Homo sapiens: one gene and its partner. The gene in region 2 interacts genetically with the main gene of each other region. Each region holds a gene or a part of one and is shown on either strand. Other genes may lie near its edges.

Region 1 (3,661 bases), about 69 Mb from region 2:
TTGGCATATAACTTGATTCTTAACCCTCTATACCTTATTGGAATAATATGGCTAATTGTCACTTATGTGTATGGTAAAACGATTACATTTATTTTCATTTGTTATTATTATTATTATTGAGACGGAGTCACCCAGGCTGGAGTGCAGTGGCATGATCTCGGCTCACTGCAACCTCCGCCTCCTGGGTTCAAGCAATTCTCCTGTCTCAGCCTCCCGAGTAGCTGGGATTACAGGTGCCTGCCACCACACCCGGCTAATTTTTGTATTTTTAGTAGAGATGGAGTTTCACCATGTTGGCCAAGCTGGTCTCAAACTCCTGACCTCAAGTGATCCTCCCGCCTCAGCCTCCCAAAATGCTGGGATTACATACGTGAGCCACCACACCCAGCCTACATTTACTTATTATAATCATATTTACTTATTAAAATTGCAGGAATGTGAAACAAGTCAGGTTTTTAATAACATCCTAAAAGATAAGGAAAATTGTACCACCTGAAAATAGATGATGGTGGTACAGAAATAAATGTGTGTTTTAATATGATTTTCATGTGATTTTTTTTTCCTGCTATTCTAACAACTCAAGGACAAGAAAAAGAAATATGAACCTCCTGTACCAACTAGAGTGGGGAAAAAGAAGAAGAAAACAAAGGGACCAGATGCTGCCAGCAAACTGCCACTGGGTAATGACATGGCTTCTCCTTGCCATCTTTCCAGTTCTTAGGATAAACCATCTCTGTGCATGTAGCTTAGAGTCTGAAAGGGGTAACAGGAAGTAGAGGGGCAACTGAAGCTCTAGCTTTGTGATTCATTTCTACCTCACTCTTGAGTGTGGCATTCCTCTAGGTTGGCATACAAGTTATCTTTTGTTTTAAAATACAGTATTATATGATTGTGTCTCACTTTAAGAAATGTCACCGTGGCGGGGTGCGGTGGTTCACGCCTGTAATCCCAGCACTTTGGGAGGCCGAGGCGGGCGGATCACAAGGTCAGGAGATTGAGACCATCCTGGCAAAACACGGTGAAACCCTGTCTCCACTAAAAATACAAAGAATTAGCTGGGCGTGGTGGCGGGTGCCTGTAGTCCCAGCTACTTGGGAGGCTGAGGCAGGAGAATGGCATGAACCCGGGAGGCGGAGCTTGCAGTGAGCTGAGATTGCACCACTGCAGTCCAGCCTGGGCGACAGAGCGAGACTCCGTCTCAAAAAAGAAAAAAAAACAAAAAAGTCACCATTTTTCTTTAACTGGCTCCTCTAGTGGATTGAAAGTATAGTTTTAACTCGAACCCAGGAGGCAGATTGCAGTGAGCCAAGATTGTGCCACTGCACTGTAGCCTGGATGACAGAGCAAGACTCTGTCTCAAAATAAATAAATAAAATAAAAGTATAGTTTTAAATGACAAAACCCAGGTTGAACTTTAGTAACTAAGAATCATGTTTATTTCATGAAATGAAATGCCACTGTATTGAAATTCAGATCATGCAAGCCTGAAGTTATAATAAAATTTTTCAATGGCTTCCTGCCGAACATAGAATAAAATTCATACCAAGTGACCTGACCCAGCCCACCTCTCCGACCTCAGCCCTGCCACTCCCCCTTGCTCATCGGTCACACTGCCTGCCTTATGTTTTTTTGACTTTTGTACATATCAGGGCCTTTGCCCTTACTCACTCCTCTGCTTAAAATGTTCCCCCAGTTCTTCTCATGGCTACTTGCTTCTCATCCTTTAGGCTTCAGCTCAAATACCTCCCCAAATGCTCATCTAAATATGCTCTTCCCTGCTTAGAAGAAAAAACTAAGAAGAAATACTTAAACTACTTTAAAAAATATTGTTCAGTTAATTGAAGGAAATCAGTAAAACCAGCCATTGGTCTACCATAATGAATTGGTATGGTATTGGTACAGAAAGAGGCCACCAGAACAGAGTAGGAAGTCCAAAACCAGTCATGTTACATGGATATTTAATATACATTGAAGGTGCCACTTCAGGTCTGTGGGGAATAGGGTGGGTTATTTAATATAAAAGGCATTTCCATCAGAGAAATGCAAATCAAAACTACAATGAGATACCATCTCACACCAGTTAGAATGGCAATTGGCAATCATTAAAAAGTCAGGAAACAACAGGTGCTGGAGAGGATGTGGAGAAATAGGAACACTTTTACACTGTTGGTGGGACTGTAAACTAGTTCAACCATTGTGGAAGACAGTGTGGCGATTCCTCAAGGATCTAGAACTAGAAATACCATTTGACCCAGCCATCCCATTACTGGGTATATACCCAAAGGAATATAAATCAAGCTGCTATAAAGACCCATGCACATGTATGTTTATTGCGGCACTATTCACAATAGCAAAGACTTGGAACCAACCCAAATGTCCATTAATAGGCTGGATGAAGAAAATGTGGCACATATACACCATGGAATACTATGCAGCCATAAAAAAGGATGAGTTCATGTCCTTTGTAGGGACATGGATGAAGCTGGAAACCATCATTCTGAGCAAGCTATTGTAAGGACAGAAAACCAAATGCTGCATGTTCTCACTCATAGGTGGGAATTGAACAATGAGAATACTTGGACACAGGGTGGGGAACATCACACACTGGGGCCTGTCGTGGGGTGGGGGGAGGGGGAGGGATAGCATTAGGAGATATACCTAATGTAAATGACGAGTTAATGAGTGCAGCACACCAACATGGCACATGTATGCATATGTAACAAACCTGCACGTCATGCACATGTACCCTAAAACTTAAAGTATAATAATAATAAAATTAAAAAAATATAAAAGGCATTTCAAAAGTTTTTGTCCAGAGAAAATGAAATTAGATTCTTGACTCTTGCCAAATGGAATACAGGTATACATGTGAAAATAAATAAATGAAAATTCAGAAATATATTTAACCTTAGGGAAGAAGACAGTTTTTGAAGTAACTTGGAAAACCCAGAAACCATAAGAGAAAAGGTTGACATATTTATCTGTAAAAATGATACAATTCCCAGCACTTTGGGAGGCTGAGGCAGGTGGATCACGAGGTCAGGAGATTGGGACCATCCTGGCTAACACGTTGAAACCCCGTCTCTGCTAAAAATCCAAAAAGTTAGCTGGGCGTGGTGGCACACACCTGTAATTCCAACTATTCGGGAGGCTGAGGCAGGAGAATCGCTTGAACCCAGGAGGCAGAGGTTGCAATGAGCTGAGATCGCGCCGCTGCACTCCAGCCTGGGCGACAGAGCAACAAGACTCCGTCTCAAAAAAAAAAAAAGACACAATTCTTACGTGGCTTGAGACTTCAAAGCCAAAAGAAACAATAATGTATGGAAAAAAAATATTTGCCATATATGTGATAAGCAGGGTTAATATCCCTGATATTTCAAAATTCTACAAATAGATGAGTATGTATATAGCCAGCATACAACAGTGTATACTGCCTGAGCAACATATGTAACTTTTTATTAGTACCTATGGGAAAAAATAAACCAGACCCAGGTATCTGATGGGTCAGTAGCTTTTTTCTTCTTTAAGTATACAGACTATTCAGCCAGGGTGTGTCATTTGGGGCTAGCTATTTGGTCATAAACCCCATCCCCATTTTGAAGGGCTTGATTATATAACAGCCACACTCCCCTTTCCATTTTGGCACCGGTTTACTTAGAGT
Region 2 (2,439 bases):
TCCCCTTTTGTGAACAGGTACTGGTGGAGAATGGAACAAAAGCTGGGCACAGCCTTCTCATGGATGCCAGGGATCTGGTCCTTAAGGTAAGGCTTCTTCTTCCCTCACTCCCCCACCCATATGGCACCAATTACTGTTACTCTCTTGAAAACGAAAGAGACTGTCATGTATTGACAAGGGTGGCTCTCAGGAAACTGGGCGTATGAAGTCATTATGATACAGAGCAGTGGTTGGCAAATGAGAGCCTGTGGATCAAATCCGACCTGCCACCTGTTTTTATATAAGCCATGCTTATTTGTGCCTCTGTTGTCTGTGACTGCTTTCACACTACAAACAGCAGAGTTGAGTAGTTGGGACAGAGATAGATTTTGCCTACTCTCTGGCCCTTTAAAAGAAACTTTGCGGACTCCTAATCTAGGGCATTGCTGAGCTAAGAACCTTGTCACTGGGGGAGAGTATGAGCCAGTGTATAATCATAAATTTAATTGTCCTGGAGTGGGATTTTTTTGAGAGTGGAGGTTGCTGACAAGGGAGAGCACCGTACTATGTGCCAAGTTCTTGCCTTTCTCCTGCAGCAAAGAGAAAGTTCTTTGTTTGGAGTATTAAAGATGCAGCCAGCTTAATTCAAAGGACATAGTCAATCGTTATTAGAATTGAGTGTTAAAGGAGTCCTCAGTTTACTGAGTGCAGAGATTGAATTATGAAAATAGACCCTTGGCCCAGCTTTATTTCTTTTATTTCCTTTGATTTCAGGGAAAAGAGAAGTCACCTTTGGACCCTCGACCTGGTTTTGTCTTTGCCCCGGTGAGTATTACTTCTGCCTGTCCCACCACACGGATCTGAACTTAGGCGTGGCCGGGAAATGTAAGATGGTAAAGCTAAGCCACTCTCCACTACTTTGTGTTCCTATCCAGTTCCTACCTAATGATTCCCCTGGCTCTTCCTACCCACTGCTCCTGTCCTCCCTTCTCCCTGGCCCCTTTTGACTCTATTATTCTCAGTTTTTAAGTTTTGTGATTGATGGCTCTTTTGTCTTACCTCATTTTTTTATGTGTTCACAGTGTCCCCATGAACTCCCTTGTCCCCAGTTGACCAACCTGGCCTGTAGCTTCTCACAGGCGTACCATCCCATCCCCTTCAGCTGGGTAGGTACCTGGGGATATTGCAGCAGGAAGCAAACATCCTGGAAAAACAGGAAGAAAAAGAATCAGAGTTAGGAGGAGTTGGATAATTTGTAGAATAGCCTGGAGACTTTAGGGCCTACATGTATATGATTTATACATTGTAAAAAAGGACTGCAGGAATGGGGAAGAAGGGACTGTACAAACTTTTTTCCCATATCTTTTTCTTCTAAACAGTCTCTATGTTCCTTATCTTAGAACAAGAAACCAAAGGAAGAAAAGTTCTCTATGGTGATCCTTGCTCGGGGGTCTCCAGAGGAGGCTCATCGCTGGCCCCGTATCACTCAGCCTGTCCTTAAACGGCCTCGCCATGTGCATTGTCACTTGTGCTGTCCAGATGGGCACATGCAGCATGCTGTGCTCACAGCCCGCCGGCACGGCAGGTATGGGGGGTGTGACCAAAATCAGTGGGATGTGGCAGGAAGCTGCAGCCCACGCCAGCATCTGTTTCCACAGGGATTTGTATCGTTGTGCCCGTGTCAGCTCCTGGGGAGATCTTTTACCTGTGCTTACTCCGTCTGCGTTTCCTCCATCTACGGCTCAGGATCCCTCTGAGAGTTGATGAGGATGTGTAACAAGTATTTTCTTCTATCGTGCCTGCCAGGGCTGAAGCTGCCTGGTATCCAGGAGGGGAATGCTGGTATCCCCATATGTCTGTGTTTGTTTGAGATTTTTAATAATAAATAATAAATTTTTGAAGAATGGAAGTGGATTTTGTGATTCTTAAAAAGTGTAGAAGCTGGGCACGGTGGCATGTGTCTGCATTTCCAGCCACTCAGGAAGCTGAGGCAAGAGGATCACTTGAGCCCAGGTGTTAAGGCTACAGTGAACTTTGATTGTAACACTGCACTTCAGCATAGGTAACAGAGCAAGACGTCCTCCCTTAAAAAAAAAAAAAAAAAAAAAACATGTAAAAGGTATAGTTAATTATCCTGGCCTATCCTGTAATGAAGAGCTTCCTCAGATTTTTGGTGCCAGGCTTCCCACACAAATCTCAAGCTCGCCCTCTCCTATTGTGGCAGTTCAGAGCTCCATAAGCTCTTCGCTGTAATGATGAATGTGTAAGCTGATCATTAAAGCAGAAGTAGAAAAACCAGATTTCCATAAGCCCTTTGCTATAATGATGAATGTACAAGTTAAACATTAAAGCAGAAGCAAGAAAAATGGATAAGGAATCGGGGGAAACTGGTGCCTGAGTACGAAAGCCAGAATACAAAAAAAGCAAGCCCTTTAAAGCCCCACCTATACTTTCTCTACC

Evidence for each region. Genes that interact genetically often act in the same process or in processes that back each other up.
Region 1: changes in METTL17 (region 2) and PSMC1 together harm fitness more than expected from each alone (negative genetic interaction), as found in Homo sapiens cells (one large-scale study listed by BioGRID).

The regions. Positions count from the first base shown.
Region 1 is NC_000014.9:90,259,532-90,263,192, forward strand, and holds part of PSMC1 (26S proteasome regulatory subunit 4), read left to right. Parts: intron 1-583; coding exon 584-680; intron 681-3,661. UniProt on the Homo sapiens protein: Component of the 26S proteasome, a multiprotein complex involved in the ATP-dependent degradation of ubiquitinated proteins.
Region 2 is NC_000014.9:20,995,148-20,997,586, forward strand, and holds the end of METTL17 (ribosome assembly protein METTL17, mitochondrial isoform 2 precursor), read left to right. Parts: intron 1-17; coding exon 18-86; intron 87-689; exon of another isoform or gene 690-753; coding exon 754-804; exon of another isoform or gene 805-1,061; coding exon 1,062-1,145; exon of another isoform or gene 1,146-1,183; intron 1,184-1,379; coding exon 1,380-1,564; coding exon of another isoform or gene 1,565-1,637; coding exon 1,638-1,743; 3' UTR 1,744-1,888; downstream 1,889-2,439. UniProt on the Homo sapiens protein: Mitochondrial ribosome (mitoribosome) assembly factor. Binds at the interface of the head and body domains of the mitochondrial small ribosomal subunit (mt-SSU), occluding the mRNA channel and preventing compaction of the head domain towards the body.